3 separate regions of the Homo sapiens genome follow, and regions 2 and 3 are each linked to region 1. The links come from fine-mapping of genetic effects on gene expression. A gene starts in region 1. Each other region holds a variant in brackets. All regions are shown on one strand. Distances are between the middles of the regions. Region 1 holds the start of LIMA1 (LIM domain and actin binding 1). Region 2 overlaps LIMA1 (LIM domain and actin binding 1). Region 3 overlaps LIMA1 (LIM domain and actin binding 1).

Region 1 (10,155 bases):
TACTTGGCTAATTTTAATAATTTCAGTTTCAAGTTATTTAGCTATAATTTCCAACTGTTTCCTTTTTTTGGGTTGGTGGTAAACAGAATAAATTTTATCCATAATATTGTTATTTTTTCTTGAGACGGAGTCTCACTCTGTCTCAGGCTGGGGTGCAGTGGCACAATCTCAGTCCACTGCAACTTCCGCCTCCTGGGTTCAAGTGATTCTCCTGCCTCAGCCTCCCGAGTAGCTGTGACTACTGGCGTGCACCACCACGCCCAGTGAATTTTTGTATTTTTAGTAGAGACAGGCTTTCACCATGTTAGCCAAGCCAGTTCTGAATTCCTGACCTCAAGTTATCCGCCTGCCTCGGCCTTCTAAAGTGCTGGAATTACAGGCATGAGCCACCGTGCCCAGACTATCCAGAATATTTTTAAATGATTGACTTGTTTTATTTCAGATACTGAATTATAATTGGTAACAGAACCAAATGATGACATTAGGAAATTTTTCTGACAAATCTGTGGCCACTCCAGTCTTCTTTCCCATTATTGTGAAAGCACCATTAAAACAAAATGCAGCTTACTTTCAACTATTCATTATTAAATTTCAAATATTCATTACTGAAGCCACATTTAAAGTAGACAATATCGGCTGGGCGCGGCGGTTCACGCCTGTAATCCCAGCACTTTGGGAGGCCAAGGCTGGTCGATCACTAGAGGTCAAGAGTTTGAGACCGGCCTGGCCAACATGGTGAAACCCTGTCTCTACTAAAAATACAAAAATTAGCTGGGCTTGGTGGTGCACGCCTGTAATCCCAGCTACTTGGTTGAGACAGGAGAATCACTTGAACCCAGGGGGCAGAGGTTGCAGTGAGCCAAGATCGTGCCAGTGCACTCCAGCCTGAGGGACAGAGCACAACTCTGCCTCAAAAGAAAAAAAGTAAAATAGACAATAATGTAGTAGAAATATAATCTGTGTGGCAGACACCAATTACTTTTTTTTTTTTTTTTGGAGATGGAGTCTCGCTCTGTTGCCCAGGCTGGAGTGCAATGGTGTGATCTCTGCTCACTGCAACCTGTGTCTCTGGAGTTCAAGCGATTCTCCTGCCTCAGCCTCCTGAGTAGCTGGGACTACAGGCGCACACTACTACACCTGGCTAATTTTTGTATTTTTAGTAGAGATGGGATTTCACCATGTTGTCCAGGCTGGTCTCGAACTTCTGACCTCGTGATCCGCCCACTTGTGATCTGCCCACCTCAGCCTCCCAAAGTGCTGGGATTATAGGCGTGAGCCACCGTGCCCAGCTGACACCAATTCTTTTAAAGCAACAAATATCTTTACCAGTACAGAAGCTTATTCAACTGTGTACTGGAGATAAATCTCTAGGTAATTTTCTTCCAATATGTAGATGTCTCATCAATTATAGTGCATATTTGCCATTCTCTTCCAAGATTCTTAAATATGTTGACATAATTTCTTTTGCAGTATGTTCTGCTATTCTTGTTGCACCGTATCATGTATGTAAACATTTGCCTGTATCTACTCCATTTTTCCCTTTCAACTCTATTGTTCCCTTCACTATCAGATAAAGGCCTATGAGTTTTTTGTTTGAGACAGGGTCTTGTTCTGTCGCCCAGGCTGGAGTGCAGTGGTGTGATCTCGGCTCATTACAATCTCCAACTCCTGGGCTCAAGGCATCCTCCCACTTCACACTCCCAGGTAACTGGGATTACAGGCACACACCACCACACCCAGCTTTTTTGTCTGTTTATTTTATTTGTTTGTAAAGACAGGGTTTTGCCATGTTGGCCAGGCTAGTCTCTAACTCCTGGCCTCAAGTGATCCCTGCCTGGGCCTCCCAAAGTGCTGGGATTACAGGTGTGAGCCACTGCACCTGGCCCATGCCCATTCTTTAAGTATTGTCTATGGCTACTTTGGCACATTTGGCACTACAGTGAGAGCTGAGTAGCTGTGACAGAGACTATAAGTCCCACAAAGCCTAAAATATTTACTATTTGGCTGTTTACACAAAAGGTTTGCTAACATATGGTCTAGAAAAATCAACAAAACAATAAATCACGCCCTGACTTGCTGCATTTGCCCATTTCCATGGTGTAAATACTCCCCTTACAGCCAATTTCGTGCTACCAATGTGACATTTCTGAATAGAGTTGGGAAGAGATGCATACAACATATGTAGTATTTCCACAGGGAATACAATGGACAAATAACCTCAAGAGCAGAATTATTAGTAAAATGAAGAAAAAAACTACAAAGTGATGAGTTTTTAATATTTATTATATTTAAAAATTTTTTTTTAGAAATAGGGTCTCACTCTGTTGCCCAGGCTGGAGTGCAGTGGTGTGATCATAGCTCACTGCAACATCAAACTTCTAGCCTCAAGCCATCTTCCCGCCTTAGCCTCCCAAAGCACTGGGATTACAAATGTGACTCAACATGCCTGGCCTATTACTTTTATTTTTAAGATAATTTAATTGTAGCTTATATAATTTGATTTCTAATAATGGTTGTGCTTATGACCTGGCTCATAAAATCCCTGAAAATTTAGCAATCAACCTAATGCTAGCTCTATCTTCAAAAGGAGGCTTTGGGAAAGCAAGTAATTTTTGTATCCACTAAAGCACAGAGCTAAAAAAAATTGGGGGGAGGGGAGACATCTATTGAGGGAACGCCACATGCAGGGTAACGTATTTTCTGGAGTACTATCCTGTATTGATATTGTATGCTCTTTAGCATTCCCATGCTGTCTGCCACTTTTGCTGGAGTCTTGATACTTGATACTGTTAATGCAAAATAAGTAGCAGGCCATTAGTTTGGAGTTGTTTTTGTACCCAGAAAGCAACCCAAAATTTAGAGGTATTCCTTGCACCTTTTGTTTGTTTTGTTTTTTTGAGATGGAGTCTCGTTCTCTCATCCAGGCTGGAGTGCAGTGGCGAGATCTCTGCTCACTGCAATCTCCACTTCCCGGGTTCAAGTCATTCTCGTGCCTCAGCCTCCCGAGTAGCTGGGATTACAGGCACTTACCACCACGTCCGGCTAATTTTTGTATTTTTAGTGGAGACGGTGCTTCGCCATGTTGGCTAGGCTGGTCTCGAACTCCTAACCTCAGGGGATCCGCCTGCCTCAGCCTCCCAAAGTGCTGGGATTACAGGTGTGAGCCACCGCGCCCGGCCCCTTGTACCTGATTTTGAATGGAGTTTCAACCAATCACAAACAGACAACCAGCCAAGTGGTTATATAATTAGGGACCTCCCATGTGACCATACCCAAATAAGGCAAACGCTTAGCTGTAGCCAATCAAATTTCTTTACTTTCGTGTTCAGCCTATAAAGTTTGATGCCTGGGCAGCTAGAGCAGGGGTGTCTGAGCCTCTTTTGGTTCTGACTGTTGTCCGATTCAAAATCTAAGTTTGTTTTGTCTGAAATTTTTATTTCTACAATACCTATCCAGAAATCAGTCTAGGCTGGATATTTGAAGGAAGAAGGGAATAACTGGCTGGCATATTCATCACCTGTTGGAAATCTCTCTTCTCACACATTTTCATTAACTTCTTGAGGAAGTGTAATTACAAGCGTTTTCCCACGAGCAGCCCCTACTAATAACGCATCAAGCTGCATGAATTCCGAAAAGCTTCAGAAAACTTGTGGTCTGAAACCCTACTATGCTTGAGGTACAGGAAAGAAGGATACTATCAAAAGGCATCATGCAGCTGGCACGGAACTGGGACAAGAATTTGGGGGCAGGATGGCCAAGTGCTAGGCCAATTGACGGTCTCCAAACCATTAGCACAGCTCCTATTCTGAATGGAGGAGTAAAAACAGCTGTTGGAGAACTTGGACGTCATCTGCCCTTGTCAAACCGTTTTCAGGATTAATGTACTTAATTCAGCTTTTTCCACTACACCACACAGCCTCCTGTAAAACACCCTCCCTGCACACAACTTACCCCCAAAGCACCAGGAACCTAGCTGGCTAGAGTTGAGCTTAGGAAAAACCTGAGTGGCTCCAGAGTCAAACTGCGATAACGTTGAGTCAGAGGAGTTAAGGACAAAGTAGAGCTGCACAGAGGCCCACGTCGTGCAAGTGCGTGTCTCCTTCAGAGAAAAGCGTGCCGAGGTAGACTAGGCCCCGGGCAGCAAAAACCCTGTCCCGTCGCCAGCGCCCCGCACCGCCAGAGCGACTGGAGCAGACGCGAGCGCTGGGCACGTAGCCGGTGGCGCGCACGCTCAGCCCGAGGCCGCACGGGAGGCTGTCTGGCGTGCGCGCCCCCGCGGCGGTGGGCGGGGTCCGGGGCGGGGCCGCAGGAGCAGTAGGTGTTAGCAGCTTGGTCGCGACAGGTGCGCTAGGTAGAGCGCCGGGACCTGTGACAGGGCTGGTAGCAGCGCAGAGGAAAGGCGGCTTTTAGCCAGGTAAGGGCCTTCTCTCTCCACAACCGGAGAGTGCGGGAAGACCCCGGCTTCTCTCCACACCCTCTTTCTCCTTCGACTTTTGGGGCGGGGGGAGTGCAAGGAGTGTGAGTCCCTCCCCCTCGAGATAAGGGGTCGAGGGACGCTGATCCTCCGTTCTTTCCTCACTTCTGGGGCCTGCGCTGGGTGGGGAGTGCTTATGTCGGGCTGAGCCTTTGCTGCCCAAGGGCGGGAGCTGCAAATACCCCGTCCTCTCCCACCGAGAACACTGCATTCTAACTGTATACTTTCTGGTGTGGTGGAGGAAGGTGACAATTCATTAAAACTCCAAATACCCTCCTTCCAGGGAAATACTGTAATATTCAACTGTTCTTTTTCCTTCATTTTCAGCCATTCCCTCTCTTTTCGATTTTTTCTCCCTTCCATTACGCCAGCTGAACTCTGTTTAAGACACTTACACCCTTTTGAGGAATGTTGAGAATATAGCAGTCCTTGCAGCCGATGTGTCATCCCCGAATCGCTATCGTGTATATATCGCTGGCACTTGCCCCCGACATATGTTGGTGTTAATGTAAGGTAATTGTACACCCCTGGCTACACATACTAAAGCTTGAAGTTGTAGCTGCTAGGAACGAACCATCTGGCACCCTTCCTAGCCTCCTTACTGATGCTTGCAAGAACGGTTTAGCTGATCCTGGTGAGAGATATTTGAACTACTATTGTCTTGCACCTAATTCCAGCTTTCAAAAGTCTGCCTTGGACGGGCGCAGTGGCTCACGCCTATAATCCCAACACTTTGGGAAACTGAGGCGGGAGGATCGCTTGAGCCCAGGTGTTTGAGACCAGCCAAGGCAACTTAGCGAGACCCTTGTCTCTACAAAAAAATAAATAAATAAATAAAAATAAAAGATAAGTCTGCCTAATCCAGATCTGCCTAATCCAGATGGTTCAATTGACTTGACTTTTCAGGTTAGTCAAAGGTAATTAGGGAGTTATCAGTTTTTAAGGCAATGCCCATTTTGGGGAGAGGTTTTCTTTTGCATTAAGTATTCTTTCTTTTGCTCTTGATTTAAATGGTTTAACACAGTACCTTTTATCTGCTTGGTTACCAATACTATTCACAAATGCTAAATATTTCAGGAGCCATGAAATAACACCAATCCTTTCTTCTGAGGTATGATGTAGACACAAAAGAACATGACCCCTAACAACATGTTCTAAGTTCCTGTAGAGGTATAACCTGGGTGCAGGATGATCACGTTTTAGATAGATCTTCAAAAAATTATAGAGTTGGCGTGAAAGAAGGCAAAAAAAAGTGTGTGTTCATATATGTTTTCTTGTTTTGCATTGATAGAACAACATATAATGTACTAGGTAATTAGTTTAGGAACTTATTTCATTCTTTGGACAAAATATTGAGTGCCTTTCATGTCAGTCCTACTGTAGATTCAAAGTGCCAAACGTCTTTACCCTAAAAGAACTTAAAATCAAATGGGTTAGACAGATCCACATACAATTTATGGTATTAGTGAGGTCATTTCTATACTAGAGGTCAGCCCAGGGTACTGTAGGAGCATAGGGAATATAGGTGTTTTGTTTTGTTTTTTAATTCTCTCTTCTGCTTTTCCTTAAAAACAAAAACCTCTGAGTAATAATGAGTGATTCTCTTCAATCTATGTATTTGTATCACTTTCATATTTCTTACCCTCTCTTCCTCCAATTCTATGGCCTATGGAAAATGGGATTAGACCCTGTTGTTAATGTGGCATTTAGTAAATAGTTGGATCTGTTTCCACTGTTCTGTATTGGGCTGGGAAGTGTTGTTATCAGGTAGTCCCTGGGAAGAGAACAGTATATTGGCAACATTAGCAAAGGAGTGCCATTTTGTAAAAATTACCTCATTGTATAACTTTCTTTAACTTGGTACACTCAAGCTTTGTTCCAGACTCTGGTTAAAGGTGGGGCTAAATTTCAACCTAATAATTCTAAAAGAAAGCTTCAGAAGCTAAAACAATTCACATCTTGGTGACAGGGGATACTTTTTCCTGCTAAGATGCCCTCAAAATGTTTTTCTCTTTCTTTTTTTCTTGGGTGGGGAAGACAGGGTAGATAGGTGGGTGGGGAAAAATGTTTTTAAGTATAATTTTGACTAGTGTTTCTTCAGGTTTCAAATTCTTATATTTTCTCTGGTATTTTTCACCAGTTAACTGCAATTAACTTAGAGCCCTCGTACCAAAAAAATTTATCAAAGACACACACACAGACACAAAAGAATATTGAGAGTGTGGGAGTTCATTAGACATCTTTGGCATAATAGGGCACCTAACCACAAATTGGAAGAATTTATTATTTAAATTGACAGTGAAACTAGTTTCAGGCATTCTTAATTCCATACACTATTAGATAGATGACTTTTAGATTAGAATTGTACCCTTTCTGCAGATAGGAAAATGTATAACGAGTCCTAAGTTAGTAATTTCCATTAGAAAAGGCAATTGTTTTTTAAGTTTGCTATTGTCTTTCACTGTATGTTTTTTGATAGAAACTTAAGGTACTTCATTTTAGATTGCATACAGTAATCTCCAGGTGAGGTTACTTAACACAGCCTCTTCAGGTTACTAACAAACCAGTGGTTGTAAATGAAGTAGTTTCTACTTAATGATTATGGAGTTGAGAGTCTATGGTGGATGATAAGGTAGGACCATACTGATGAGTTTATTCTGAAGCTGGGTGCAGAGTCCTCAAGACTCAGTCAAATTATTGTGCTACTGAAGACCTCTTTTCATAAAAAGGATGGAGTTTGACCTAACAAGCAATCCATTATTCAGCATGTCAGATGATTTCTTGACACGTGAAAACTTTCTAGAGACTTCCTGTGTCCACTCATAAGAAGTTAACATGATACCATGAAAATTTTACATTCTTTTGATGTTCTTTTAAATAATTTCTTAATACTACTACCCTGGGCCGGGCGCGGTGGCTCACGCCTGTAATCCCAGCACTTTGGGAGGCCGAGGCGGGAGGATCACGAGGTCAGGAGATCGAGACCATCCTAGCTAACATGGTGAAACCCAGTCTCTACTAAAAATACAAAAACAAAATTAGCCGGGCGTGGTGGCAGGCGCCTGTAGTCCTAGCTACTCGGGAGGCTGAGGCGGGAGAATGGCGTGAACCCGGGAGGCGGAGCTTGCAGTGAGCGGAGATCGCGCCACTGCACTCCAGCCTGCGTGACAGAGTGAGACTCCGTCTCAAAAAAAAAAAAAAAAAAAAAAAAAAAATACTACTACCCTGAAACTAAGAACTTTCATCTTTAGGGGAAAAAAAGATGCAACTTTTTTGTACTTCTGATAACAAGTGTGGATCTATTTTCCCCCTTAATTATTCTGTAACAGAGTTTATGATATGGAAAACTTTACAGTCCTTCAAATATGTTTTGTCTTGCACAAAGTATTGCCATTTTTGTTTCATTACCCATAAATTAGTCCCAATATCCGCTTTACTTAGTTTTAGATTTCCACAATCTTTTTTTTCTCCATAAACTGAAATTCAAGCTAATGCCCCGGGACTTCTTTTATTTCATAGTCAGTTTTACTAAACAGGTAACATTTGCTCAGCTTTGGCGTCTGAGCAAAAATTTGGCTTCCAGCACTACAGGAAAGCTGTCTGTCCATGCATAGTATCCAGTGGTTTCTGTCTAACGGTCCTTACCCCTTGGCAATAACTGACCAAGTGAACAACTTGTCTAGTTCTTCCTTTCATTTGCTTTTCTTGACATGACTACTATCTGGTTCTCCATTTTCTAATCTAACCACTTACTCCCATGATCCATTAACTCAGTCTTTTTGCCCCTTAAATGCCGGGTTCACCATAGCCCTGCTCAGCTTCCTATTCTCACTATACTTTCTCCCTTTATAATCTGATTTCTTTCCATGACTTCCACTATCACCTCCATGTAAGTGGCCTGAAAATTTATCTTTTTAAAAAACTTCTTTCATATTGTATATATAATTGTTTTATTTTCATATATGCCAACACATTTAAAAATAAAAATTATAGATATTTATATTATTATAAAATAAAAATTATATATGTTTATTATAGAAAATGTGGAAAAAACAGGCCGGGTGTGATGGCTCATGCCTGTAATCCCAGCACTTTGGGAGGCTGAGGCGGGTGATCACTTGAGGTCAGGAGTTCGAGACCAGCCTGGCCAACATAGTGAAACCCCATCTCTACTAAAAATACAAAAATTAGCTGGGCATGGTGGCGCATGCCTGTAGTCCCAGCTACTAAGGAGGCTGAAGCAGGAGAATCCCTTGAACCCAGGAGGCAGAGGTTGCAGAGAGCCAAGCTCATGCCACTGCACTCCAGCCTGGGTGACAAAGCAAGACTCCATATCAAAAAAAAAAAAAGAAAAGAAAAGAAAAAAAGAAAATGTGGAAAAAACAAATTATAAAGAAGACAAAATAACCCATATTCCATAATCTGTTCCAGAGAGATCTATCATTTGATATATTTCCTTTCAGTGGTTTTGTTTTCTTTGATATACACACACTCACATAAACACAAAGGTAATTGAACTCATACTGTTGCAGTAGATATAGTTTTGTGTCTGCTTTTTTTGCTTTATATTATTTTTCATAGCATCAAAAATTTTTGAAAACATTTAAATGGATATTTAATCTCCATTGTAATCTATTTAATAATTTATTATATTGAGGTTGCATAATTTATTTGTGTTTTGGTTTTACATTAAATGAAAACAATTGAGAACAAATTTATGCATAAATCTTTGTGCAAATGACTCATTATTTCCTTAGGTTAGATTCCCAGAGGTTGAATTACCAGGTCAAGGAGTGTGAAAATTTAAAAATACTAAACCTGCTCCCAAATTGCTTTTTGTAAAGATTAGACTAATTAACATTCTCAACTGCAGTGATTGTGAGTGCCCATCTTAGTGCGGCCTTGGTAACATTGAATATTATTATTATGATGATTTTTGAGATGGAGTCTCGCTCTGTCGCCCAGGCTGGAGTGCAGTGGCACGATCTCTGCTCACTGCAAGCTCCACGTCCCGGGTTCATGCCATTCTCCTGCCTCAGACTCCTGAGTAGCTGGGACTACAGGTGCCCGCCACCACACCTGGCTATTTTTTTTTTTATTTTTAGTAGAGATGGGGTTTCACCGTGTTAGCCAGGATGGTCTCAATCTCCTGACCTTGTGATCCGCCCACCTCGGCCTCCCAAAGTGCTGGGATTACAGGCATGAGCCACCTCGCCCAGCCCGTCTGGCTAATTTTTGTGTTTTTTAGTAGAGACAGGGTTTCACCCTGTTGATCAGGCTGACCTCAAGCCCCTGACCTCAGGAGATCTGCCCACCTCGGCCTCCCAAAGTGCTGGGATTACAGCATGAGCCACCGCGCCCGGCCCGAATATTATTTTTTAATCTTTACTAATTTGATAGGCAGAAATGAATTAATTTGTATTTCTTTGCTAGTGAGAGAGAACATTTTTCATACATTCATTTCTGTTTCTTCTGTGAATTATGTCTGGGTTAATCCCACTCCCATTTTTATTTGGGCGTTAACATTTTAATTATGTTGGTTTTTTGTTTGGTATTCTTTTATTTGGAGCGTTTTGTGGGGGAAGCACAGGCTTTTATTAGACCAAATAGAGTGAATGGAGTGACAAAGTGGAAAGTATACAGAAGTTGGAATTGTGGTGTTATAAATGCCCATTGTTTTG
Region 2 (10,155 bases), 100 kb after region 1:
AAGTAGATGGTAATCAACAGAGGGTCTGTAATATCCCTCAAACGGGAAAGACAGTATTTATGAACATCAATTATTTATAGATTACCTCATTCACTCTAGAATATCCTGAAGATATTATCTACACATTTTTATTTGAAACAAAGGGAAGACCATAGTTTGTTCAAATTGCTGTCGTGGGATTAATTTCATTTGGGTTAGCATCTGCTCTCCTCCCCAAAGAGTTTCCCTTGGCTGTGGAAATTTAACATTCCAGGACAATTTAGAAAATGCTCTCTTGGTTTGTGAGTCAGGAGTTCTGAGTTTGTGCAGTGAGCAGGTCTATGCAGACCTACCCACAAAGGCTGAGGGAGCTGAAAAGCCAAAGAAAGAGGCTGACAAATCCAGTTTCTCAGAAAGAAACATTTAATAAGAGCTTATGAACAGAAGTGATGTCTAGGAGGCCATGAGACAGTGGATCCCTGCACCAGCCCTCCAGAAAATATCCTTTATATAGCAAGGTTTTAGGATAAAACATGTGCAGCTAGTCACGCTTGACTTTCTTGCAAAACTTATCACTGGAGCGATTGGATAAGCATCTTTATGAGGGGTTGTCTATGCTCTGGGCACTACCCCTTTATGAGGGATAATCTATGCTACAGGCATTGTTTAAAGACTTTGCTGCAGAACAAACCACCTTGGTATGCAGGAGTCAAACCACCAGTTAGCATGGTGGTTTCACTCCAAGATGGCATCACTCCTGCCATGCAACAGGCTGTTTTCCTACAGTTTTAATTCTATTTCTGTTATTGACTATGTGAACTTTGATAAGACCTGGTGTTTAACTTTCTACTTGGTAGGGGCAAAATGGTGGGAGAAGGGGAATGAAAAAAAAAATCTCTTACTAACTGAAAAAATATACTGTGAAGATAAAAAATGTCTAACATTGTCGTATTGGCAGTGTTTTAAACATGGCTGTGCCAAGTCTGAGCATGCCATGAAGGCATGGGCAGGATGTATGCCAGGCCTGTGATAATGGTAGAGATTTTTAGGCACTGACTATGCTTCCTGTTGTCTGAATAGACATGGGGGCAATTACAGAAAAGTGGCTGAGAGCCCAGGACATAGAAAATAAAGGGGAGGCACAGCCGCAGCCGCTGTGAGTTGGCATTTTACCATGTCGGGACCCTCTTGTCTTTATGAAACTAGAAGGGGCCCTTAGGCAGCTGCTGCTGCATAAACCTTAAATAATATTGAAAAGGGTTGATGTGAGAAATGAATAGGAATAATGGGACTCTGATAGGTCTGGCTAGTTAGAAGCTCAAGGTTAGTCAATTATGTGAGCTAGCAATCTATTAACTTGATGTTAAGGAGGAAGACAGACTTTTTGCTCCATGTGGGTGAAGGCTCTATTAAAGAGAGAGCCGATGTGGGTCAGGTGTGGGAGGTAGTAAGCCACTAAAGAATTGTTAATGAGACACTCCTTGTGTGGGTGAAGGCTCATAAAAGCTCGCTCTCCTGAGCTGGGATATGTTCCAGCCTCAGGTAGATACGAGTGAGGCTGATTTTGCCATGATTAGCAGAGTTACTTAAAAAGGAAAAAAAGAAAAATGTGGTCTTATTCTTGGATCTGAGTCTCTGAGTTTCAGCTCAGCTGCAGTAAAGCTCTCCAGGGCACGCCAAATGCTGTGTATTCATTGAAGGTTCCTGTTTGTCTCTTCCAGCTTCTGCCTCCTGCTCCTGGTACCTAATTTCTGCTCCTGCCTTCCACTTTCCTCCTAATGTGAGCTCAACTTTCAGCTTTCTCACAGGTTCTCCTTTCCTTCTGTTCCCTGGGCTGCTTCCCCCTCCCACAGTGTGTGCCTCCCCTCCGTGTGTTTGTGATGGAGGAGTGCTCTGCGTCCTTCAGTTCCCCTTTAGCAGAACAGTATCCATCTCCTCTTATCCCATGTGAAGTTTCTGTCTCCTGCTGTGTCTTTACTGACCAGAATGAGCACTTACTCTCCTACATCTATTTCAAGTGTTAAAAAATACAGAATTCCGGGCCAGGCGCAGTGGCTCACACCTGTAATCCCAGCACTTTGGGAGGCCAAGGTGGGCAGATCACAAGGTTAGGAGTTAGAAACCAGCCTGACCAACATGGTGAAACCCCATCTCTACTAAAAATACAAAAATTAGCCGAGTGTGGTGGTGCACGCCTGTAATCCCAGCTACTCAGGAGGCTGAGGCAGGAGAATCGCTTGAACCCGGAAGGTGGAGCTTGCAGTGAGCTGAGATCGCGCCACTGTACTCCAGTCTGGGTGACAGAGTGAGACTCTGTCTCAAAAAACAAAACAAAACAAAAAAAACAAAAAACGCAGAATTCCCTTTCTGCAACTGAAAATGATTTTTAATCTGATAAATACATTTGTCCTACTTTTACATTATGTGAATTGTGATTTGTACAGGCTCTCTCCAGTAGCATCCATTATACTATTACACCAAAAATTTATTCTGCTTTTTAATATCTCTCCTTTTGTTGTTGTTGTTTTGAGACAGAGTCTTGCCCTGTCTCCAAGGCTGGAGGGCAGTGATGAGATCTCAGCTCACAGCAACTTCTGCTTCCTGGGTTCAAGTGATTCTTGTGCCTCAGCCTCTCTGGTAGCTGGAATTACAGGCGCCCGCCACCACGCCCAGCTAATGTTTGCATTTTCTGTAGAGACAGGGTTTCACCATGTTGGCCAGGCTGCTCTGGAACTTCGACCTCAAGTGATCCACCTGCCTTGGCCTCCCAAAGTGCTGGGATTACAGGCCTGGGCCATCGCACCTGGCCAGTGTATCTCCTACCTAGACAAAGACCTAGTCCTTTTAGAGAAAACTTAATTAAAACTCTGCAAAGATATCTCCATTTAGCAGTGTCCATATAAGAAAAAAAGAATTCTGAACTCCAAATACGATAATGTGTTAATTACTTGCAACAACATTCATTACAATAACATTTGGTTATATTTAAATACCTCCCTTATGCTAAACTAGGTTGTAACCTGTGGTCTTTTGATTCTTTAGATGTTTCTTTTTAGGACATTGCCCCTAGAATAAAGCAGAGTCCTGGTAACTAGCCATTTCCACTCAGCTTTGTTCCTTCCTTCTTAAATCCCTTGGGCACTACTTGGGAGTTTACCACTAATTTTATTAAACTTCCTTTTATAGATTTCTTTATTTTCATTTTATGCACATTTTCTGCTCTCACTTCCTGCCCAAATCTACTTGGAAAACCATTTTTATTTTTTGCTTTACCTCCTAGTGAATCATGTGGCAAGTGAACCAACAGTCTGAATTTTTTATGGGCCTGTTTTGGGTTTTTTTTTTTTTTTTTTTTTTTTGAGACCAAGTCTCACTCTGTTGCCCAAGCTGGAGTGCAGTGGCTCAATCTCGGCTCACTGCAACCTCTGCCTCCCAGGTTCAAGCGATTCTCCTGCCTCAGCCTCCCGAGTAGCTGGGACTATAGGCACACGCCACCATGCCCGGCTAATTTTTGTATTTTTAGTAGAGATGGGGTTTCACTATGTTGGCCAGGCTGGTCTTGAACTCCTGACCTCGTGATCTGCCTACCTCAACCTCCCAAAGTGTGGGATTATGGGCGTGAGACACTACACCCAGCCTATTTTGGATTTTTTTTACTCAAAATTCTATCTTGCCCATAACCTGGTTCATTTCAGGCTTAACTATCCAGGTCCTGGGCCTTGGGATTAATTTGCATTACTTACCATCATGTGTTTTCTGGTGAGAGCCCAGGCTGATCATGGCAGCAAAAGCACCTCCTAATTGCTGATGAGAGCTTCCTGGCCACCTAAGCTGTCTCCCGCATCTACTGGTTGAGGTGTTTGTGTTGGGCAAGTCAAGGGTTAACTCCCATACACCTAGGGACTTTGCATTCCCATCTACTCCCCACCCCTTAGTAGCCATGTAACTATTTCTTTTCTTTATTTTTTGAGATGGAGTCTCACTCTGTCGCCCAGGCTGGAGTGCAGTGGCGCCATCTCGGCTCACTACAAGCTCTGCCTCCCGGGTTCACGCCATTCTCCTGCCTCAGCCTCCCGAGTAACTGGGATTACACGAGTGTACCACTACGCCTGCCTAATTTTTGTATTTTTACTGGAGACGGGGTTTCACCATGTTGGCCAGGCTGGTCTCGAACTCCTGACCTCATGATCCGCCCACCTCGGCCTCCTAAAGTGCTGGGATTACAAGCATGAGCCACCGCACCTGGCCCATGTAACTATTTCTTATCATGTGAAAGCTTATAATATTTTTGGAGTTCTGGCTTTTATCAGTGCTAGAATACCAACTGTTTTATATTCTTTAGGATTGAGTTTATCAGGTAGAACCACTGTGCCCATGTTTGTTCCAACTTTACAAACAGTTCATGAATTCCCAGTCATTAATACATTAACCAGTGTGTTTCCCATTGCATTAGTTTTTCTCTCCATTGGTTTTTAGAAATATTATAGAACCTATAGCTTTAATGGGCTATGCTTCCCTCTGGTGTCCTAATAAAATACTTTGTGTCTCTTATAAATTGTTCCACTTGTGTGTCAGTTTTGACTTGTTTAAAAATAGTATGTCTAGTTGATTGAACAAATCAAGATTATAAGCAGAG[C/G]AGAATAAAAGGGGCTTTACTGAAATGTCTTTCCTAATTCCCAAAGCCAAATGCTCTTCCTCTCCTTGAAATTTATCCCCTTTAGAATCTGTCTTGTGTTTACTTGGCACTTGAATCAAACTTCTTTCTTCTGTGTGTGATAACATTTTCTCCTAATCCCTGCACTCCCCCCCCCGACCCCTTCCCCCATCCCCTGCTCCTAACATTTTTTATGTGGGTCGTGACTTGTCTAAGCCATTCTTTGTAATCCAGACGTAGCTCCACCTATCCTTGGTGGCTGCTACATTTAGAGCAGCCACACAGTTTGGGAAGGGAATATCAAGAGAGCCTCTTGGCTTTAAAGAGTCAGCTGATAGAATTGTAGCAGGTTTAGTGCTCCATGAGAATTGACTGACCAGCTAAGGGAGCCCTTAGACAAAGTAAATTCTAGGGTCCATCTCAAGACAGTGCTAACTCATCGCTGCCCATGCTAAAGTTGTCTTTTTGTTTTTCCTAGAAGTTTCAGGCACCTGCAAGAGAGACCTGCGTGGAATGTCAGAAGACAGTCTATCCAATGGAGCGTCTCTTGGCCAACCAGCAGGTGTTTCACATCAGCTGCTTCCGTTGCTCCTATTGCAACAACAAACTCAGGTAAGTCAGCCCAAAACAAGCCATCTGTCTATAACTGGAACTCTAGAGGGAGTCTTTGGCTTTTAGAGCACTGGTGCTAAAAGCTACTGTGCTAATGATATTCTGTTGAAGGCTCTTGAATAAAGTAAAAAGCATCATTTAGTGACAAGTCTTTCATACCAAATAATGATGGTGTTTGGAACTTCTTGGTGTATTGATATGTTAATTTACATGTTAGGACCGAAGCTTAAATAATATGAGTTGCAGGTAAACCCCCCTGTGACCTAATTTAATAGAATGTTTTCCCTTGGTATCACAGAATCACAAAGTTAAGAAATCTCAAGAGGTTACTTGTTTAAGCCCTTACTTGTCTTAACCACTGTATAAATGATAATAATGGCAATAATAATAGCCCCTGGAGAGCATGTCTTTTTCTCTATGTTGCCTCACTTTATTTCTGAGAAAATAGTTGTTACATATCATTTCTTCCAAGTAACTCAAAGTGCAAATATAAATGTGACAAATCGGGGAAACATTCCAAATTAACTCATTTTAATCATAGAGTCTTACAGAAGGAAGTAACCAAGATGTCACTTTCTCCAGCTTTCCTTTCTGAGCAATCCTTCCTAAAATACTCTTGAAAGATGTTTTGGCATCTGTGTGACATTTCTAGCTATTAGATAGCTCTAGCTAGACAGCTTCTCCAAACATGCAGCCAAAGTGTACCTCAGTCACTTCCACTCATTAGTTCTTCTGCTGCCCACTGTGTTAATTTTTTTCTCCAAAGCACCTTTTTTTTTTTTTTTTTTTTTGGATACAGAGTCTCACTCTGTTGCCCAGGGTGGAGTGCAGTGGCGTGATCTCAGCTCACTGCAACCTCTACCTCCTGAGTTCAAGCGATTCTCCTGCCTCAGCCTCCCAAGTAGCTGGGACTACAGGCGCCCGCCACCACACCCAGCTAATTTTTTGTATTTTTAGTAGAGAAGGGGTTTCACCATGTTAGCCAGGATGGTCTTGATCTCCTGACCTCGTGATCCACCCGCCTCGGCCTCCCAAAGTGCTGAGATTATAGGTGTGAGCCACTGTGCCTGGCTTAAAGCACCTTATTTCTTTTGTGGAAGTGCTGCCGTTTTATACCCCCTTTAACATTTGTCACTCTTCAGAATGGTTCGTAACTTAAGGGAAAAAACTTTAAAAAGATAAAACTTATCATCCTGCAAGAGACACCAAATCTCCTAAAGGCTTGTCTAGGACTGACATTAGGGAAAAACTACCTCCTGTCAACTCCTCACCATTCTTCTATTAATCAAGCTTATATCTAGGTGTGGATATAAGGATCACACCTGTAATCCTAGCATTTTGGGAGTGCCCAGGTAGGAGGATCACTTGATGCCAGAAGTTCAAGACTAGCCTGGGTAACATAGAGAGACCCCATCTGGTTTTTCTTTTTGAGATGGAGTCTCACTCTGTTGCCCAGGCTGGAGTGCAGTGGTGTGATCCTGGCTCACTGCAACCTTTGTCTCCCAGGTTCAAGCGATTCTCATGCCTCAGTCTCCTGAGTAGCTGGGATTACAGGCGGGCACCACCACGCCCAGCTAATTTCTTTCTTTTTTTTTTTTTTTCCGGAGATGGAGTCTTGCTCTGTCGCCCAGGCTGGAGTGCAGTGGGATGATGTCAGCTCACTGCAACCTCCACCTCCCAGGTTCAAGCAATTCTCCTGCCTCAGCCTCCCGAGTGGTTGGGACTACAGGCGTGTGCAACATGCCTGGCTAATTTTTGTATTTTTCATAGAGATGAGGTTTCACCATGTTAGCCACGCTGGTCTTGAACTCCTGACCTCAGTCAGTCTGCCCTCCTCGGCCTCCCAAAGTGCTGGGATTACAGGTGTGAGCAACCACGCCTGGCCAATTTTTGTATTTCTTAGTAGAGATGGGGTTTCACCATGTTGGTCAGGCTGGTCTCAAACTTCTGACCTCAAGTGATCTGCCCACCTCGGCCTCCCAAAGTGCTGGGACTGCACCTGGCCGGAGATCCCATCTCTATGAAAAATTTGGGGAGGCTGAGACTGAGGCTGGAGGATCACTTGAGCCCTGGAGGTCAAGGCTGCAGTGAGCTATGATCATACCATTGCACTCCAGCCTGGGTGACAGAGCAAGACCTCCACTCAAAAAAAAAAACAACAAAAAATGGCTGGGTGCAGTTGCTCATGCCTGTAATCCCAGCACTTTGGGAGGCCGAGGTGGGCAGATCACGAGGTCAGGAGATTGAGACCATCCTGGCTAACAAGGTGAAACCCCGTCTCTACTAAAAATACAAAATATTAGTCAGGTGTGGTGGCGAGTGCCTGTAGTCCCAGCTACTCGGGAGGCTGAGGCAGGAGAATGGCGTGAACCTGGGAGGCGGAGCTTGCAGTGAGCTGAGATCGTGTCACTGCACTCCAGCCTGGGTGACAGAGCGAGACTCTGTCTCAAAAAAAAACAAAAATGGCTGGGCGTGGTGGCTCACGCCTGTAATCCCAGCCCTTTGGGAGGCCGAGGCGGGCAGATCACGAGGTCAAGAGATCGAGACTATCCTGGCCAACATGGTGAAACCCCGTCTCTACTAAAAATACAAAAATTTGCCGTGCATGGTGGCACACACCTGTAGTCCCAACTACTCAGGAGGCTGAGGTAGGAGAATCGCTTGAACCCAGGAGGCAGAGGTTGCAGTGAGCTGAGATCATGCCACTGCACTCCAGCCTGGCGACAGAGCGAGACTCTAACAAAACAAAACAATACAAAAATTAGCCAGGCGTGGTGGCGCACTCCTGTAATCCCAGCTACTCAGGAGGCTGAGGCAGGAGAATTGCTTAAACTTGGGAGGCGGAGGTTGCAGTGAGCCAAGATTGTGCAACTGCACTCCAGCCTGGGCGACAGAGCGAGATTCTCTCAAAAAAAGAAAAGAAAAAGAAAAAAAAAATATATATATATATATGTATTTATATACCGTTAAGAATAGAGTTAATTCAAGCACAAAAGCTTGATGATGGCTACCCAGAAACACTGACTCCAAATGAATGGGGTCAGCATTCCAAAGTGGAGAAAGTTAGTTTCACTTACACAGAAATTTTAGCAAAGATTATGACATTTTTCATATAAGACCAGTGCATATACCACAGTGATTTGATTGGGTACAGATTGGTACATTCCAAGGAAGATTATCACTCGCAAAGAAGGGATAGTGATCTGAGGGGGTCTTATCTCTGGTGCCCTTTGGTCTTCATAATTTATAGTGAAAAGAAAGAGTTGCAGCTACATGCTGTGTGACCCAGGTTGCATAGCCACATTCCTCTCAAGGCTCAGAATGATTTAAAGTTTCTATTACTGTTGGTTTTTTTTTCTTTTTTTTTTTTTTTAAGACAGTCTCGCTCTATCACAGTGGCACAATCTCAGCTCACTGCAACCTCTGCCTCCCGGGTTCAAGTGATTCTCCCACTTCAGCTTCCCAAGTAGCTGAGACTACAGGCATGTGCCACCACACCCAGCTAATTTTTAAATTTTTTGTAGAGATGAATTCTCACTATGTTGGCCGGGCTGGTCTCAAACTCCTGGGCTCAAGCGATCCTCTCACCCTGGCCTCCCAAAGCGCTGGGATTACAGGCATGAGCCACTGCACCCAACCCGTGCTTTGTGTTATGATAAGAAAACAAATGTGCTAAAATGGGGGTAAGGAATTCCTGGTCACTGAAGGGCTTTTAAAGATCTTTTTCTTACTTGGCATCTTCTGAAAATACTGGAATTGCCAGATTTTAGCCTCCTGGTATAAGTGAGAATGTGAAGATTTGCTAAGTTTATGCTTTTTTTCTTTTAATGACAGTCTAGGAACATATGCATCTTTACATGGAAGAATCTATTGTAAGCCTCACTTCAATCAACTCTTTAAATCTAAGGGCAACTATGATGAAGGCTTTGGGCACAGACCACACAAGGATCTATGGGCAAGCAAAAATGAAAACGAAGAGATTTTGGAGAGACCAGCCCAGCTTGCAAATGCAAGGGAGACCCCTCACAGCCCAGGGGTAGAAGATGCCCCTATTGCTAAGGTGGGTGTCCTGGCTGCAAGTATGGAAGCCAAGGCCTCCTCTCAGCAGGAGAAGGAAGACAAGCCAGCTGAAACCAAGAAGCTGAGGATCGCCTGGCCACCCCCCACTGAACTTGGAAGTTCAGGAAGTGCCTTGGAGGAAGGGATCAAAATGTCAAAGCCCAAATGGCCTCCTGAAGACGAAATCAGCAAGCCCGAAGTTCCTGAGGATGTCGATCTAGATCTGAAGAAGCTAAGACGATCTTCTTCACTGAAGGAAAGAAGCCGCCCATTCACTGTAGCAGCTTCATTTCAAAGCACCTCTGTCAAGAGCCCAAAAACTGTGTCCCCACCTATCAGGAAAGGCTGGAGCATGTCAGAGCAGAGTGAAGAGTCTGTGGGTGGAAGAGTTGCAGAAAGGAAACAAGTGGAAAATGCCAAGGCTTCTAAGAAGAATGGGAATGTGGGAAAAACAACCTGGCAAAACAAAGAATCTAAAGGAGAGACAGGGAAGAGAAGTAAGGAAGGTCATAGTTTGGAGATGGAGAATGAGAATCTTGTAGAAAATGGTGCAGACTCCGATGAAGATGATAACAGCTTCCTCAAACAACAATCTCCACAAGAACCCAAGTCTCTGAATTGGTCGAGTTTTGTAGACAACACCTTTGCTGAAGAATTCACTACTCAGAATCAGAAATCCCAGGATGTGGAACTCTGGGAGGGAGAAGTGGTCAAAGAGCTCTCTGTGGAAGAACAGATAAAGAGAAATCGGTATTATGATGAGGATGAGGATGAAGAGTGACAAATTGCAATGATGCTGGGCCTTAAATTCATGTTAGTGTTAGCGAGCCACTGCCCTTTGTCAAAATGTG
Region 3 (10,155 bases), 28 kb after region 1:
TGCGACATTGCACTCCAGCATGGGCAACAAGAGTGAAACTCTGTCTAAAAAAAAAAAAAAAAAAGAAACTCTAGGAGTGGAAGCCAGGAAAGTTAGGCCTTAGGATCCAGCTTTGGGAATCATGTGGAATAAGTGACTTTTGATGAGTTGAGAGTAAGTGAGCTCGCTCAGAGAAGGGAGAGAGACTGACTCTTTATTGATTCCTGGGAGTAAGAGTGGAGGTAGGAAAAGAGGATTCTGCAAGAAAAGAGAAAAGTGGAATTTATTCTCAATTACACAGCCTCATTTTTGTTGCTTTTGCTCTGGGTCTTAGTGTTTTTGAAGGCACAAAATATCCTTTAAAAGGCGATAAAGAGATCAAATATTATTGAAGTGAGTCTGTCCTGATGTAAACATTTACATTCTTGTTGACCCCTGGGAATTTGGTCAATGTTACAATTGTGCTATTGTCTAGATTCATGTTTCTACACATACCTGAAGCTCTTCCAAGAACAGTAGCAGTGATTATTCTAACATGCCTGCAGACTTGTCTATCATCATGTTTCTGAATAATAGAGTAGTGAGCTTTTTATTTATAACATTTGATGTTATTTAGTGGTTCCATTTTTTTATATTGTGAGTTTATATGAGAGTTTGAATAAGCTAAAATTACTGGGTAATTCACAGTTCTGAAAAATATATGCTTCCTCATAACTAGTCTTGGGACTGCAGGATAAGCATTCAGTTTCTGTACTAATTGTGTTTCAGATAAAACTTAAAGCTATGTGTAATTTTATGGAAGGCGTATTTATAGAGTTCTTTCTATTTAGAAAGCAATGTATTAAATACTAGATGTCAGAAGGTTAAAAGACAAAGTAGATCTGTCTTCTGACTTCAAATATCTTGCTATTGAGTAGGAATTATGAAATTATTATAAGGCAGGGGGATTGACTTATGCTGATTAGGAATAGGGCTAGGGCAGTTTGGAAAAGGGCCATGTGTGTTCTTTCACTTGAGTCTTTTAAGGTGAATAGGTTGAGTACGGGATAACATTTCAAATGGAGTGAAAAAAATATACGGTGTATCATGGGAGGAGAAGCTGGTTATGGCATAATTTTAGAGATTCTAGATCTGTTTTCAGAAATCAAAGTTCTGTGGGGTTAGGCTTTTTACTATCAGAGAAAGAAGTTATAAATAAGCCAAGAGGGAATACTAGAATGAACCTTGTGATGCTAGACTGGAGTCAGAAATATCAGTATGAATTTATAGTTTATAAAATTTTTATAGGGCTGGGCGCGGTGACTCACACCTGTAATCCCAGCACTTTGGGGGGCCGAGGTGGGCAGATCACGAGGTCAAGAGATCGAGACCATCCTGGCCAACATGGTGAAACCCTGTCTCTACTAAAAATACAAAAATTACTCGGGTGTGGTGGCGCATGCCTGCGGTCCCAGCTACTCAGAAGGCTGAGGCAGGAGAGTGGCTTGAAGCCGGGAGGCAGAGGTTGCAGTGAGCCGAGATCGCACCACTGCACTCCAGCCTGGTGACAGAGTGAGACTCCATCTCAGAAAAAAAAAAAAAAAAAAAAAAAAAGTATAGGTAGATATAGAGCTAAATAAAGAAATGTGTGCCTATAGGCCAGGCACAGTGGCTCACACCTATAATCCCAGCACTTTGGGAGGCTGAGGCGTGAGGATCACTTAGGCCCAGGAGTTTGACACCAGCCTGGACAATACGGGGAGACTCTGTCTCTACAAAAAAATTTAAAATATTAGCCAGGCGCGGTGGCATGTGTCTAGTCCCAGCTACTTGGCAGGCTGAGGTGGGAGGATCATTTGTGCTCAGGAGGTAGGCTGCAGTGAGCTGTGATTGCACCACTGCAGTCCAGCCTGGGTGACAGTGGATTCTGTCACACACACACACACACACACAAAAAGCAGTGTGTATACATGGGCCAGTATACATACATATAATTCTTGGTTTTGTCCACTAAGACGCCTAGAAGCAGTGACATCTCAGTGGCAATGAGCATAACTAGTAGTGCCCAGATGCTAACTTCTCCCATAAAAGAAAACAGGGCTCCTTGGGGAAATAGTTGATTCCAGGGCTGAGGCATGGTAAATACAAGACGAGCCTGGAACATCTTGCAGTGCTAGAAAGTAAGGAAGTGCTAAAAACAAAACAAACAAAAAACAGGGCAAGTTGAGAGAACACTGGAGCCAAGCCAAAAACTCCAAGAGCTGGAACAATTTAAGCAATAAAATAAGGATAGTATTGGATTATAATACAGGGAATAAAGTAACTATCTATGAAACCATCCTAATATAAATAAATGGTTGGGCTGGACGTGGTGGCTCATGCCTGTAATCCTAGCACTTTGGAGGGCCGAAGCAGGAAGATCATCTTGTGGCATACTGCCAAGGTTACTACTTGAGACCATCACTATGACAGTTACTACTGTTACTACTTGAGACCATCATTATAAGACTGAACTAAGGGTGTGGAAAGCAGAAATGAAAACTTAAAAGTAACTATTTTAAAGGAAGGGGTCAGAGGAAGAAAAAGAGAGTTCCCTGCTTCTAGTGAGCAAAGGCAGCCCACTGAGCTTCCACAGCCCTTTGTATTTATTGGGTAGAAAGAGCAGGGAGGAGGAGGTAACGATTGGTCAGCTGCTTAATTGATCACAGGTTCATATTACTGTTAACAGGTATCAATTATGCCTAATCACAAGAAACACTGCTGGTGTGACTGCCCTCAGCATTCCTTCTGGGTGGCAGATGCAATTTGTCAGTTTGCCAACATTCTGCATTCATGAGAACAGTTTGCTGTTTACTCATATAGCCTCCAGTGGTATACTGAGTTGATCACGACCCTCACTCTTTCGGCCTTCAACATCATCTGAGCTCAGGAATTTGAGACCAGCCTGGACAACATAGGGAGACTTCATCTCTATGTAAATGGTTCTAAGTAATGTAAAATCTTCTAAGTAAATGGTTGAATAAATGAGGGAGAACAAATCTTCGTTATAGAAGAATTTCAATTAATAAATGTAGAAAGGATGACAGTAACAGAAAATCACCATTAGAATACCAGTAATAATTGCCATAAGCAAGACACACCCATGAATGCTAAAATTAATGGGAAAAAGTTTAAGGAGAAACAGAGTCAAAGTTCTCCCTCATAATATTTATGAATTACAAAGGGAAAACAAATAATAACTTTACAGAGGAGAAACCTGATATACCACATTAACCATGTGATCAAGGCTAATGTCGTGAGTAATAAGACATCACATCAACATCACGTACCCTCTGATATGATGCACTGTGAAGGGAACATCAACTCTGGATTATTCCTTTCAAACATTTATAATCTCAATCTAATCTGAGAAAATATCATGTTTTTTAAAAAAACTTTTTTTTGTTTTGTCTTTTGAGTATTGCAAGATGTTCCAGGCTGATCTTGTATTTGCCCTTCCCCAGCTCTGGAATCAACCGCTTCTCCAAGGAGTCTTGATTCTATTTTATTGGAGAAACCAAGAAACCCAAATTGAGGAACATTCTACATAATATCTGACCAATACTTTCAACAATATCGAGGTCATGAAAGACAAGGAAAAGCAGAGTAACTGTCATAGATTGGGGTAGACTTAGGAAGACACGACAACTAAATGCAGTGTATGATCCTGAAACAGAAATAAGACGTTAATTAAAAAACTGGTGGAATTTCAATAAAGTCTATAGTTAATAGTATTGTACCAGTGCTCATTTCTTAGTTTTGCTAATTGTACTATGGTAATATAAGATAAAGCTAGGTGAAATGTATATGGGAACTCTTGTACTGTTTTTGCAACTCTTATGTATGAAATTGTTTCAGAATAAAAGGTGAGTGCTCACTTCAGTCATACATATACTAAAGTTGAAATGATACAGAGAAGATTAGCATGGTCCCTGTGTGAAGTTAACACACAAATTTGTGAAGCAGTCCATGTTTAAAAAAAAAAGTTTAAAAAAAAAAGGTTAAAGAACTATTAACTTCCAGCCAGGCACGGTGGCTCACGCCTGTAATCCCAGCACTTTGGAAGGCCGAGGCGGGC[G/A]GATCATGAGGTCAGGAGTTCAAGACCAGCCTGACCAACATGGTGAAACCCCATCTCTACTAAAAATACAAAAAAAAAAATTAGCCGAGTGTGGTGGCACATGCCTGTAATCACAGCTACCCAGGAGGCTGAGGCAGGACAATTGCTTGAACCTGGGAGGCGGAGGTTGCAGTGAGCCGAGATTGCGCCACTGCACTCTAGCCTGGGCGACAGAGTGAGACTCCATCTCAAAAAAAAAATAAATAACTATTAACTTCCAAAAAATGTTCAAGAATGTGAATTTAGTCACTATTTTTGTACAGAAATATAAATTTAGAAATGTAATTTTCTGAAAAAACATTATGTAGCAATGTATTTCATGTTGCTTTTATTTAAAATTCCCTTTGCAACTTGAAGTTTTTTAGTTTTTTTTTTTCTTTTAATTGCTCCCTTTTACCTGATGACATTCAAATTGGGAAGAGAGGTTGGTAGAAAAACTAAAACTCTACAATCTATTTCTTAAAAATAATGTTTTTCTTTTCTTTCTTTCCTTTCTTTTCTTTCTTTTCTTTACTTTTTTTTTTCTTTTCTTTTCTTTTTTTTTTTTTGACAGGGTCTGGCTCTATAGTCCAGGTTGAGTACAGTGGTGTGATCACGGCTCACTGCAACCTTAACCTCTAGGCTCAAGTGACCCACCTCAGCCTCTTGAGTAGCTGGGACCACAGACACACCACCATGGCCAGATAGTTTTCTGTATTTTTTCTTTGTAGAGACAGGGTTTCACCATGTTGCCCAGGCTGGTCTCAAACTCCTGAGCTCATGTGATCTGCCTGCCTCGGCCTCCCAAAGTGCTGGGATTACAGGCATGAGCCACCACATGTGGCCCATTTTTTCTTCATAAGTGAGTTTGTAGTTTTTACTTTGTTCTAATTTTTTGAGGCTATGTTCAGGAAGCCATACAGCTTGAATAAGTAACCATCTCAGGAGAAAAAAAAGAGAGGAGGCCACTGAGATCGGATATATAAGAACAGGATTTTATTAGTGGCTTGGGGAGGGCTGGTTGCAGGGCCAGCTCATTTATTTTTTGGTTTGGTTTGGTGGTTTTTTTTTGTTTTGTTTTTTTTGGTTTTGTTTTGAGACAGAGTCTTGTGCTGTTGCCCAGGCTGGAGTGCAGTGACACAATTTTTCTTCTGCCTCACCCTCCCGAGTAGCTGGAATTACAGGCATGCACCACCACGCCTGGCTAATTTTTGTATTTTTAGTAGAGACAGGGTTTTACCATGTTGGCCAGGCTGGCCTCGAACTCCTGAACTTAAGTGATCCACTCACCTAAGCCTCCCAGAGTGCTGGGATTACAGGCATAAGCCACCGCGCCCGGCTGTTTTTGTCCAAGCCTGGTTTCTGAGAGACAGTTTCCTTGGTCAGGAGAGTCTGTAAATGAATTTATTAGAATAGGTTTCTTGGAGCAGTTACCGGCCTCACCGTAAGCAACAGCTTGAGGAAGCAGATACCTGGGGCAGATTTCCCAGTGAGTCACTCTTCAACTTTTCAAGGACCTTTGTTCGAGAGATCTTTATCTCCAAGCTACAGCTTACCCTACCCTAGGACAATTTAGTGGCCCATCTCAAGCTACCTGGTTTGATAAAAGAACATTGATCCTGGGAGTTAGAACTCTAGCTCTAATACTAACCAGCTGGTGACTTTGGAAAATGATTGGAGCTTTATGCATCTCAGTTTCCTCACTGTAAAAAAGGGGATTTGGTTACTTGATTTCCAAGCTACTTTCTTAATGAAAAAAATCTGCCATTTGTATCTGAAACTGAAGGCATCTTCCTTCTCAGCAAACTGTTCCCCTTTCTATGTATACCATTTATTTGTCATGCAACGATCCTTCTAGTCTCTGAAGCTAAAAATCTGTGTTTATTTTTGTTATATGTTTCCTTTAACTCTTGCAGCCAACTGTCTTCCAATCCAGCAGTTCTTCCTTCACAGTTCATGTGGTAGTAGAATGCATATGACTGAAGAGAATGGGTTTTGGAGTCTGAAAGTCTGAAAATGGAACTCATATCTGAGAGAGACTGTGTGGGTGGGGAGAGATAATATACCTTTCTTTTTTTTTTTTTTTTTTTTGAGACAGAGTCTCGCTCTGTCGCCCAGGCTGGAGTGCAATGGCATGATCTCGACTCACTGCAACCTCTGCTTCCCGGGTTCAAGCAGTTGTCCTGCCTCAGCCTCCCAAGTAGCTGGGATTACAGGCGCCTGCCACCATGCCTGGCTAATTTTTTGTATGTTTAGTAAAGACAGGATTTTGCTACATTGGCCAGACTGGGTCCGGAACTCCTGACCTCAGGTGATCCGCCTGCCTCAGCCTCCCAAAGTGCTGGGATTACAGGCGTGAGCCACCATGCTGGCCCCAATACCACACCTTTAATGCAGGCCAATGAAAGCCAGTTACTACAATGGAGGGTATTCCAAGTGAGCCCAGGATAACTTTTAAGTTTCCCTGAAAGCAGGAATGATTATCTCTGATATTCACCACTCTGGGAAGATACTCACCACTATTCTCTTACTGAAAAATAATTTGTATGGGTTTTCAGCTAGGTGGTTCAGGGATTTTTCTAGCTGGTTTTCTACATTGGCTAAAAGTGGCGGTTTTAATCATTCTTCATTAATTGTAGTTGAAAGAAAATGGACTTTGGAATCAAACAGAATATGCGTTTGAATCCCAGCTCTGCTACTTTATAGCTAAGTGATCTTTGTAAAGTTAATATGTCTGAATCTCAATTTCGTTACCATAAATATAAGACAATAAAACCAATCCTGTAGAATGATTGTGAGGATTGAGATATATGCAAAGCATAAAGTTAGTGTCTTAAAATCTTCCAAGAGTCGGATTTCTAACTTTAGCTTTGAATTTGTAGTTTCCTATTGTATATCATTTGGATTTCTCTTGCTGACATGTATGTCTCAACATGTGTAAATCAACACTCATCATTTTCCCTCTTCTTTCTATATTTACTGTCTCTGTTAATGGAATCAACAGCCTTCCATCATTCGGGTTTGATGATGCCAGCTTTGATTCTCTTTTACCCTAAGTTCATTTTATTCTAAGAACTGTCAATTTCTCTCTTCCCACTTTTCCATTTCCACCTACCCTAATTAATTTACGAATTTAAACCTTGATTACCTCTCACTTAGTTTCAGGATCTTCTTGACTAGTAATTTAGACTCCAGTCTTTTTCCCTCTTAGCAAGTTGCACACTACTGCTGAATAATATTTTAAAATATGATGTTAGTCATGTTACATGCTTTTTCAGAAACTTTCTGTGTTCCACCAGAGAGACTGTGGTTAATCCACTACAGAGATCTTATCTTACAGGTGTGGATATTGAGGATCAGAAACTTTTTTTGTTATAAAAACCATGCATGTGCTAAGTAAATAGCACATAAGATTAGACCTAATCTCTGATCACTCATGGGTTACTTCTTCCCACTATTGAAATATGGCCCAAACTCCTTAGCATGGTTTTCTTCCCAGTCAGGCCCCATTATGTCTTTTTTTTTTTTTTTTTTTTTTTGAGACAGTTTCGCTCTTGTCACCCAGGCTGGAGTACAGTGGTGCAATCTCGGCTCACTGCAACCTCCGCCTCCCAGGTTCGAGAGAGTCTCTTGCCTCAGCCTTCCGAGCAGCTGGGATTACAGGCGCGTGCCACCACGCCCAGCTAATTTTTTGTATTTTTAGTAGAGATGGGGTTTGGCCATCTTGGGCAGGCTGGTCTCAAACTCCTGACCTCAGGTGATCCGCCTGCCTCAGCCTCCCAAAGTGCTGGGATTATAGGCGTGAGCCACCACACCTGGCCAAGTCTTGTCTATCTTCAACTTCTCTTGCACCTAGAGTTTAACTCACTCCCCAAAGGTGCTAATGCTATTCTCCTCCTTCCTCCTCCTGCCTTCACTTTGATGAAATTCTGCCCGTTCTTTAAGTCCCAAGTCATCTGATATCTTTTCCTTTCCCTCTCACAAAGCCAGAAAATCAGGTCTTGTATTCCTACACCACGCATAGCCTCTAACCACATTCTGTCTTGTACTATAAATATTTGTGTGTATGTCAGCAAGCACAGTAGATTATGTACACCATTCAGGCAGGGACATCTCCCTACATCTCATAAGAAGTAGTTATTCAATAGCCTGGTACCAGAGTCTATCAAAAATCATGTATTGATTCTCACGTTTATCTGTTTCATAGGTACTAATCACATTGCTAAGAAATAACATTATGCTTCTGTGAAGACAAGTGTGGTCAGGGTGAGAGTCATCTCATTCCCTGAGTGTAAGAACTCTAAGAACTGTGTGCCTCTCCTAGCTGTATACCAAAATAGATGTTCTGACTTTTCTTAACTTTCTGGCTGGGAGTAATCAAAACCACGGACTTAGACTTGGGAGTTAACCTTTTTTTTCTTTATCGTGCTCGGTATCTCAAATAATAAATCCTTTTCCTTTTTTAGAAACATACCTTTTTTTTTTTTTTTTTTTGAGGTGGAGTCTCATTCACTCTGTCACCCAGGCTGGAGTGCAGTGGCATGATCTCAGCTCACTGCATCCTCTGCCTCCAGGGTTCAAGTGATTCTCCTGCCTCAGCCTCTCAAGTAGCTGGGATTACAGGGGTGTACCACCACACCTGGCTAATTTTTGTATTTTTAGTAGAGTCTGGGTTTCACCATGTTGGTCAGGCTGGTCTTGGACACCTGACCTCAAGTGATCTGCCTGCCTCGGCCTCCCAAAGTGCTGGGATTGCAGGTGTGAGCCACCGTGCCTGGCCTGCAAATGTATCTTGTATATATTTTTTCCCCTTTGATCCAGAGTTGATCTTTATGGAAGAACTGACAGTATTTATACCCACAACTATATTGGTAGTATATTTCTACCAAATAATATCTTAAAGCATTCATTAGCATTTCCTTAACTTGCCTTACAGAGTTTAAAAAAAACTATGATAGTTTTATATAGTTAAGTTTAGCTGAAATGTTTGTTGCTTCTGTGTCTTTTTCATCTTAGAGAAGGGGCTGGCATTGTTTGGTGAGTCTGCCAGTTTAATACCAGATAGACAAATAGGTATCATGTATTATTTGGTACATTCCAGTTTATTGCAAAGTACATGTATAGAATTAAGATTATTTTGTTCAGGAAGAAAAGAAAACATTAAAAACACTAAACAGTAACATTTATTGCTTACTTATTCTGTATCAGGGTCTTTTCTTCTTTATCTTATTTATTTCTCATAAGAATACTGTGAAGTAAATGCTATTATTATGGATGAGAAATCCAAGTTTTAGGGAAACTTTTCATTAAGTGATGAGGCCAACATTCCCACTTAGACTTATCTGTCTCTAACCCAGAGCTCCTTACCATTAAAGGGCATACTATGCCTTCCAACATGAGGATTAAAACATATTAACAAAACTAGTATTATTTTCCGACAAGGATTTCATTGGAAGAACAAATATTACATGTAGAACAGTAGTAGTGTGGTCTTTTAGAATTGTCCATTGCTTATTCTGCATCACGGGACTTTTTTTTTTTTTTTTTTTTTTTTTGAGAACATCTTGGTCTGTCACCCAGGCTGGAGTCCAGTGGCGCAATTCATAGCTCATTGTAGCCTCCAACTCCTGGGCCTAGTAGCTAGGACTATAGGTGTGTGCCACCACGCCCAGCTAATTTTTAATTTTTTGTAGAGAAGAGGGGGTCTTGCTATGTTACCCAGGCTGGTCTCAAACTCCTGGCCTCAAGCTATCCTCCCAAAGTGCTGGGATTACAGGTATGAACCACCATGTCTGACCCAGGACCTTTTTTTTTTTTTTTTTTTTTTTGAAACGGAGTTTCGTCCTTGTTGCCTGGGCTGGAGTGCAATGGTGTGATCTCGGTTCCCTGCAACCTCTGCCTCAAGCAATTTTCCTGCCTCAGCCTCCCAAGTCGCTGGGATTATAGGCATGCGCTACCACTCCTGGCTAATTTTGTGTTTTCAGTAGAGACAGGATTTCACCATGTTGGTCAGGCTGGTCCTAAACTCCTGACCTCAGACCTCAAGTGATCCACCCACCTCG

The links. PIP is the estimated chance that this variant, and not a neighbour inherited with it, causes the effect.
Region 2: its variant is the best candidate, but not a certain one, in a credible set for the expression of LIMA1 in whole blood (TOPMed, PIP 0.64).
Region 3: its variant is the best candidate, but not a certain one, in a credible set for the expression of LIMA1 in whole blood (TOPMed, PIP 0.79).

The regions. Positions count from the first base shown.
Region 1 is chr12:50,277,679-50,287,833 of GRCh38, reverse strand. LIMA1 (LIM domain and actin binding 1) reads left to right here and starts at 4,314. Exons shown (of 11, transcript NM_016357.5): 1 at 4,314-4,414. It overlaps LOC107984505 (a long non-coding RNA gene), which reads right to left and starts at 4,213. Exons shown (of 2, transcript XR_001749144.2): 1 at 3,952-4,213. It also overlaps the pseudogene LOC100418734. RefSeq lists a silencer at 4,094-4,403.
Region 2 is chr12:50,176,994-50,187,148 of GRCh38, reverse strand. It overlaps LIMA1 (LIM domain and actin binding 1), which reads left to right. Exons shown (of 11, transcript NM_016357.5): 10 at 5,112-5,245; 11 at 9,080-10,155. The coding sequence ends at 10,085. Among named protein-coding and RNA genes, the nearest start is that of CERS5, 15 kb to the right of the region's middle. The variant C/G (reference allele first, on the strand shown) is at 4,616.
Region 3 is chr12:50,250,057-50,260,211 of GRCh38, reverse strand. The region is part of intron 1 of LIMA1 (LIM domain and actin binding 1); the gene reads left to right. It also overlaps the pseudogene RNU6-1093P. Among named protein-coding and RNA genes, the nearest start is that of MIR1293, 21 kb to the right of the region's middle. The variant G/A (reference allele first, on the strand shown) is at 4,076.